2 linked regions of the Homo sapiens genome follow. The protein of the gene in region 1 interacts with the protein of each later gene in a pairwise test. Each region holds a gene or a part of one and is shown on either strand. Other genes may lie near its edges.

Evidence for each region.
Region 2: the proteins of MORC3 (region 1) and RETREG1 interact in a two-hybrid assay, tested with the Homo sapiens proteins (one large-scale study listed by BioGRID and IntAct).

Annotation. Positions count from the first base shown.
Region 1 is NC_000021.9:36,367,613-36,373,039, reverse strand, and holds part of MORC3 (MORC family CW-type zinc finger protein 3), read right to left. Parts: intron 4,053-5,427; coding exon 3,164-4,052; intron 667-3,163; coding exon 509-666; intron 1-508.
Region 2 is NC_000005.10:16,610,498-16,613,997, forward strand, and holds part of RETREG1 (reticulophagy regulator 1), read right to left. Parts: intron 1-3,500. UniProt on the Homo sapiens protein: Endoplasmic reticulum (ER)-anchored autophagy regulator which mediates ER delivery into lysosomes through sequestration into autophagosomes.

The sequences.
Region 1 (5,427 bases):
GGACTTCTTCCTAATATCATCTGTACTATGGCAATTTTTAATAATTTTGCAATTTCCTAAAAGATTAGAGTGAGCATACAGTGAAATAAGGACAGCAAGCCATAAAGACATGGTACCAAGTACGACAATAAAAGAAAAACAGGTTGAAGGAGTGAGTTTCAGTAAAAGTCTCCTGTCTTCTACTCATGGCCAAATTCCCCCTATTCTTCAATATCTTGTCCATTTTTATTTTCCTTCAAAAAGCATTCTAAAACCACTCTGACCAATCAAATGCTTTATCCCTTCTAAATTCCTATTCCACTTAAATAGAACCTAAAGGGTCAGAAACTGGAAAGGAAGGATAATGAAGTGTCACTTCTTTTTTATCTATCATAACACCAGGGTCACAGCAGACCATCAATAACTTCTTTTGACAGAACAGTATCTATTTGATGGGTGCTAGCAGATAAAAATAAATAGTATCCTAACCATAATTGCAGCCCCACAAAAACGCCTCATTTAATATTACCTTTCTCCATCCATATGATTTACAGACTCCTCAATGTTACTTGATGTTGAAACATCTGTTGCCGTCTGTTGATTTGTAGATTTTAACTGTTCTACTTCAGTTTTGAGTTCTTCACACTGTGAACGGATTTGTGACTTTTCCATTTCCAGCAATTCAACCTAACAAAAATATAAATGAGCTTTATAACTGTAAAACTTAAAAATACTAATGGCAAAGTGAAATTTCAAGCTAATATAGAGAACCTGCTTGATAACATTATCAACTATCAAAAAACAAATACACAAAGAAAAACCAGTAGTTTTCTATAAACAAGGCTTCATTCGTTTACAGCTTCACTTCTACATCTTTTTACACTGAGAGAATACAACATATTACCACTTGATTTAAAAAAAAAAGTGGTACCTAGAAAATGAAAAACCAGCCGGGCATGGTGGCTCACGCCTATAATCCCAGCACTTTGGGAGGCTGAGGTGGGCAGATCACCTGAGATCAGGAGTTTAAGACCAGCCTGACCAAAATGGAGAAACCCCATCTCTACAAAAAATACAAAATTAGCTGGGTGTGATGGCAGCCGCCTGTAATCTCAGCTACTCGGGAGGCTGAGGCAGGAGAACTGCTTGAACCCAGGAGGTGGAGGTTGCGGTGAGCTGAGATCACGCCATTGCACTCCAGCCTGGGCAACAAGAGCGAAGTTCCATCTCAAAAAAAAAAAAAAACAAAACAAAACAAAACAGAAAAACCAAGATACTAATGCCTAAATTATGTTAATGTCACAGTGGTTTTTATTTCTTGCATACTCATCAGCTTATAATTAAGTTACAATAATGAGTTTATGCTTTTTATAAACAGATGGTCCCTGACTTACAACGGTTTGACTTTATGATTTTCCAGCTTTATGATGGTGTGAAAGTTATATGCATTCTATAGAAACCACACTTTGCATACCAATACAATCATTCTGTTTTTCATTTTCAGCACAGATTCAATACATTACATGAAATACTCAGTATGTTGTAATAAACCAGACTTTGTGTTAGATGATTTTGCCCAAATGTAGGCTAACACAAGTGTTCTGAGCACTTTAAGGCAGGTTAGGCTAGGCTAAGATTTTGGGAGGTTGGCTGTAATTAAATGAATGTTGGAGTTAATGCTGTTTCCAACCTATGATGGGTTTTTCAGGACTGACACCATCATAAGTTGAGGAGCATCTGTATTTTGTCATTCAACTCCTGAGCCAAGACATCAAGATTAGTGTTTGCATGAGTAGCAAATATTCCCAAGGAAGAGACAGCACAGCACCACACCATGGTTCCCAAACTCTTTTTAGCAGGAAAATCCTTTCAAAGGCCTCACACACAAAAATGTATAAAATAGATTAAAAGGAGCTACCTGAATTTGAAGTAGGGGCATATGAAGAAGCTACTGATATTTATCATTTGTCTCTTGGTATTTATCGTTTTTCTCCTTCTTTCTCAGTAGAAGAACCCATGCATAAAGACTGCATTTCCCAGGCACCCTTTAGCCAGATGACTCAGTTCTGATAGTCAGAACACAAGCAACTCAGGCCAGGCATGGGGGCTCACGCCTGTAATTCCAACACTTTGGGAGGCCAAGATGGGTGGATCACTTGATGTCAGGAGTTTGAGATCAGCCTGGCCAATGTGGTGAAACCCTGTCTCTAATAAAAAGACAAAAATTAGCCGGGCATGGTGGCATGTGCTGTAATCTCAGCTACTCGGGACGCTGAGGCAGGAGAATCGCTTGAACTCGGGAGGTGGAGGTTGCAGTGAGCCGAGATTGGGCCACTGCACTCACTCCAGCCTGGGCAACAGAGCGAAATTCTGTCTCAAGAAGAAGAAGAAAAAAAAAAAAAAAAAAAAAAAAAAAAAAAATATATATATATATATATATATATATATGTATGTATGTATATTAATCAAAGATTTTAAAAGGGATAAGTCAGTTTCTCTCAGGAATCTTGAAAGACATAATCTAGAAAAATGAATGACTCCATAACTAAAGGATTAACTATACTTAAAAGCAGAATTGATGCCCAAAAAAGAACATAATTAACTGTATTAATGAGGTATTAAGTTAATATTGGTATTCTGAACAGGACATTTACCATACCTGGCTACCCCTAATATTTTTCAGGAATGCACATCTCAAGACATTGGAAGAACCAAAAATGCCCCTACACAATTCCATATGCCTCCAGGAGGCCCTCTCCTCAGTTGAGAACCAGTAGAATAACAGACACTCAATAAGAACAGAATTATTTTTAAGTGAAAGCATTCCAATCAAGCAATTGGCAGCTTTTTTTTGAGACAGAGTCTCGCTCTGTTGCCCAGGCTGGAATGTGGTGGTGCAATCTTGGCTCACGGCAGCCTCCGCCTCCTGGGTTCAAGTGATTCTCCTGCCTCAGCCTCCCACCACCACGCTAGGCTAATTTTTGTATTTTTAGTAGAAACGGGGTTTCACCATTTTGTCCAGGCTGGTCTCGAACTCCTTGACCTCAAGTGACTGACCCACCCGCCTTGGCCTCCCCAAGTGGTGGGATTACAGGTATGAGCCACCGCGCCCAGCCAACTGGCAGCTTCTTAAGGTTTAAATGGCCCTGGACTCCATGACTACATGTTGGATGATATAACTCACCTCACTTTTATACTGGTCCCTCTCAATACTGCATTTGTCCAGTTGTCTAAACACATCGTCAAGCTGCACAGCCATCTCATCCATTTCACTTTTACTCTCATTATTGGAACACTGGCTGCATTCAGCCTTTACATGTTGCAAAGCACTACATTGTTTTTTCAGCCTTTCTATTTCTTCCAAAGCTTGCTGATACTGAGATACCATATGGTCTGGACTTTCAGATTTGCCATTAATACTTTCAAGTAAAAATACAGCATCGGTTTCAGTGGACTGATGGCAAGTTTCTTTCTTAACATACTTGTCATTCATTTCTAGTATCCTCTGTTGTAACACTTTGATTTGATCAGTAAACATATGACACTGTCTTTTATAATTCTCTTTTTCCTCAGTGACAAGGAGTAGCTGGTTTCTCAGTTCTTGTAATTGGCAGCCTGCATCATCTGCAGATTTATCGGTGGTTTCCTGGGTTTCATGTATCTTTGCTTCAGCTTCTACACAGGAGGGCAGAATCACTGCATCATTTCTTACGTCTATCTCGTCTTCAACAGTTTCTTCTTTTTTAACAACTAAACTTGGTACTTCAGTCTGGGTAGCTGCAGTATTTCCCTGGTCGCATCGGGATGATGAGGTGCTTGTTGAACCAGTCTGGCCACAAGGTTCACTGTCACCCACAAACTCAACCTGAACACCACCTTGCTCAACGTGACTCTGTTCTGATTTCATGTCAATATCATGATCTACTGCAGGTTTGGGGGTACTGTTTTCTTCTAAGATGATGACATCTTCATCATCATCATCACCTTTATAAACTGAATTTTCAAACTGACTACTCAATCTCCGATTCTTTGCATTCAAAATTGAGGAACGAGTAGAAAGTCTCCGTTTCAAGCTGAAAAAAATTTTATACATAAAACATAAGATTATAAAATATGGACAAAATAGATGACCTTGAAGTAATCATTCTAACAAATGCAGTATTGTAACAGTTTTTTTGTTTTTTGAGATGGAGTGTCACTCTGTCGCCCAGGCTAGAGTGCAATGGCACAGTCTTGGCTCACTGCAACCTCTGCCTCCCAGGTTCAAGTGATTCTCCTGCCTCAGCCTCCTGAGGAGCTGGGATTACAGGCACCCGCCACCACGTCCAGCTAATTTTTATATTTTTAGTACAGATGGGGTTTCCCCATGTTGCCCAGGCTGGTCTCAAACTCCTTGAGCTCAAGCAATCTGCCTGCCACAGCCTCCCAAAGTGCTGGGATTAGACACATGAGCCACTGTGCCCAGCTATAAGTTTTGCAATACTAAGAAATACCCAGGCTCATTTTTTAAAGTGACGCATTGTATAGTACCAATCACTGATTTAATGAAGTAGAGATTATTTTCTCTTTTTACAGATGAAGACGATGGACTATTGAGATCTCTTTGAAGTACCAGATCTATTTACTGCCAAACATCTCTGCATTTGATCACCTCCAGGCATTTCAATGTACACATTTCCAGAACAGAATGCTACCCACCCCGGCCCCTTCTTTGTATTCTTCAGCTCAGGGAATGGCACCACCATTTTCATTTGCCCATAATAATTTTTATCAGTAATCAGTGATCAAAGATAAGCCATAAAGCAAACCAGTATTTATCCTTTCATATGAAATAATTTTATCTGAATTAAAATTGCCCCAATTTCTTCATTTGCATCATTCCCTGTTCATTCATGTTAATATGTGCATAGTTCACATTTATTTATCACCATTTGATTGCCTTTTTCCACACTTGGAGGAATATTTGTACTGGTTTGCTATTTGGGCCTTGTGTTAGACCTCCTAGATCTCAGGAAGGATTTTCCTCTTTTTTGGACTGTCTCATATTGGGCGAGCACAGCCTGCAACAGCATCTTAATGAAGGGTACACAGAACATAACAAACGCAAAGTTTTGCATGATGAAAACATCTTTATTTCTCTCTCAAGTCTATTGCTAGCTTAACTGTTATATAGGCTTCCGGGTTGAAAAATTATTTTCTCAGAAATTTAAAAGCATCATTCCATTTTCATCTGCCATTCAAGTGTTTCTGCCATTCTAATTCCTCATCTCTTGCCCGTACATAATCTGTTTCTTTCTGAAAAAATCTTTTATTCCCTGCGTTAAAAAAATGTCATGATCCTATGTCTTTGAGTGGCTCTCCTTCCAGACATTATGCTCTGTAGTTAGTGGAAATGCAGTTTTTCTGGTATGATTTCCCATTCTGGAAGGCAGCTATGTTTGCTACACC
Region 2 (3,500 bases), on another chromosome or scaffold:
AATCTACTCATCTGACAAAGGGCTAATATCCAGAATCTACAAAGAACTTAAACAAATTTACAAGAACAAATCGAACAACCCCATCAAAAAGTGGGCGAAGGATATGAACAGACACTTCTCAAAAGAAGACATTTATGCAGCCAAAAGACACATGGAAAAAATGCTCATCACTGGCCATCAGAGAAATGCAAATCAAAACCACAATGAGATATCATCTCACACCAGTTAGAATGGCGATAATTAAAAAGTCAGGAAACAACAGGTGCTGCAGAGGATGTGGAGAAATAGGAACACTTTTACACTGTTGGTGGGACTGTAAACTAGTTCAACCATTGTGGAAGTCAGTGTGGCGATTCCTCAGGGATCTAGAACTAGAAATACCATTTGACCCAGCCATCCCATTACTGGGTATATACCCAAAGGACTATAAATCATGCTGCTATAAAGACACATGCACACATATGTTTATTGCGGCACTATTCACAATACCAAAGACTTGGAACCAACCCAAATGCCCATCAATGATAGACTGGATTAAGAAAATGTGGCACATATTCACCATGGAATACTATGCAGCCATAAAAAAGGATGAGTTCATGTCCTTTGTAGGGACATGAATGAAGCTGGAAACCATTCTCAGGAAACTATCACAAGGACAAAAAAACCAAACACTGCATGTTCTCACTTATAGGTGGAAACTGAACAATGAGAACACTTGGACACAGGAAGGGGAACATCACACACCAGGGCCTGTCATGGGGTCGGGGGAGTGGGGAGGGATAGCATTAGGAGATACATCTAATGTAAATGATGAGTTAATGGGTGCAGCACACCAACATGGCACATGTATACATACGTAACAAACCTGCACGTTGTGCACACGTACCCTAGAACTTGAATAAAAAAAAAAATCACATCAGAGACGCTTTCTAGGCTGCAGATGTAACATGCCCAAAAGAGGAGCTGCATCATAAGCCATTAAATTTCAATACAGCGATCAGCAAGACTTAGGAAACGGACCTTTCACTCCATTCTGTGCCTATCCAAGGCAACCATCAGGGCTTACCACTTTCCTCACCAAAAACAGACACTTCACACAAAGATTTCTACGTGATGTTTTCCAATAGCTTTATTCATAATAGTCAAACATGAAAACTACCTGAAGGAACATCAACTAGCAAATGGATAAACAAATTGTGGTACATCATCAAAGTGGTACACTACCCAGCAATACAAAGCAGCAAATAACTGATACACACAGCAGAGATGAATCACAAAACTACGCTGAGTAAGCAAAGCCAGACACAAAAGACATCACACACTTTAGGAGGCTGAGGCAGGCAGATCACCTGAGATCAGGAGTTCGTGACCAGCCTGACCAATATGGTGAAACCCTGTCACCACTAAAAATACAAAAATTAGCCAGGCTTGGTGGCATGTGCCTGTAGTCCCAGCTACTCGGGAGGCTGAGGCAGGAGAATCGCTAGAACCCAGGAGGTGGAGGTTGCAGTGAGCCAAGATCGCACCACTGCACTCCAGTCTGGGAGAGAGAGAGAGACTCCGTCTCAAAAAAAAAAAAAAAAGGACATCACCCTATCACCCTAAATAACACCATTTATACAAAGCTTTAGGGAAGTCCAACCTAGTCAACAGTGACAGAAACAGATCAGTCCCCAGGGGTGGGTGCTGATAGAACAGGGATGCAAAGAAGCCTTTAAGGGTGATGAAATATTCTAGATCTCAACTGCCAGTATGGTTACACAGGCACATATGATACATTTGACTGTATACTTACAGTATGGGCATTTTATTGGTGGTAAACCACAAAAAGTTGATATTTAAAAAAAAACCAACATTTTCTATTACATTGGGCTCATTCCATTTCAGGATGTGCTTACAAGTACAACATGGGTTGCTTCTGAGAGGAAACTGCGTAGACAGGGACAGGCGTGGGAAGACATCAAAATGTTTACCCTTCTGTACATTTAAACATCTGAACTGTAAGGCTATGTTAGTTAATTTTTAAATAAATAAAATTTTAAATGAAGGAAAAAATTCTAAAAACATGTTCTTCATTGGTGAAATGAGTGAGATAGTATTATCTGAGGCCCCTCATCACCACAAAACTATGGGACTGTTACCCAATCTACTTCAGTTGTGGAAACCCTGCTTTTTGAGACAGGCACTCTATGTGGCCTCTATTTTACCAAACTCCTCTGAGTTCTCATGAATATCATTTTTTAGCATTTTTTCATATTTCAGTATTTTTCATAAAATATACCATAGATAAGAATGCATATGTGTGTGTGTGTGCCTGCACGTCTCGGATTCGAGAATGTCTTTTATTTTCTTTGTAGTTTTATCCCCTATGTGTGTATCCCTAACCAATCCTGTTCAGTTCCTGCACCATTTAAAACTTAATTGAATCATTCAGCATATATTACTTTGTGCATCTTTTGACCAAAATTACATTTGTAAAATTCATCCCTGTTGTTGCTAAAGCTGTATTTTCATTGTTATATGGTATCACAATTTATAATAAATAAATGAACCACAGTGTACTTATCCATTAAATTATTTGTGGATACTTCTACAAAGTATTTTTTTTTTTGGTCCCTGTTGCCTACAGAAAAAACAAATCCAAACACACAACATAGCATCTGAGGCAACTACTGCCCCCACAAACCACCTAGCCAACCTTATCTCCCACTACATTTTCTACCAGCCCATGCTGCCATTGCATCTGTTTACTGTGTAGTGGTTGAAATATTAGGTACACCTTCAAGATGCTATTGTGTTCATTGTATTCCTCAGGGTTAGAATGCTCTTGATCATCTACTAGATCTCCCAAATCATTCTTATCCACTGAGGTTTAAGCATGATCTCCTTATTAAGAACCCCACAATCTCTTCCATCCACAATACCACGTTCCCCAAAACCATATCAAAATGAATTATCCTTTCCTGAATCTTCCACCACACTTAATTCATGCAACTTTTAGTTATACCCATTGGTTACGGCTGTGTCACAATTTTTGCCCAAAATCTTGCAGATAATGGGCAGGTAATAAATGTTGAAGCTTTTGAGTCAAATTCAGACTCCTAAAACCCACTGCTAATGCCAGGTGCTAAATCATTCAAAAATATATCTTTAAAAAGTTTACTTCCACAAAAATGAAATACATCAATTAAAGTGAAAACAACATCCCATTGCTTAAGACAGATTTGGTTGGGTTCCCCACAGTTTTAAAATTGATCTTTTTTTCTCATAGAAAATACAGTGCTTTAGAGTTCCCAAGACACAGAAGGTTAGAGTATCACATAATTTAAGATCATTTGAGAAGAAATACATTATTTAAAGAAAACGTAATGTCCTTGAAAATCATTTTAACCCCCAGAGCAACAAATAAAAGGGAAAAAAAAACAAAATTTTAATGACATTAATAAATGGGTCATAAATTCCAATGAATTATAATGCAAAAGCAACAAGTAATTCTGAAC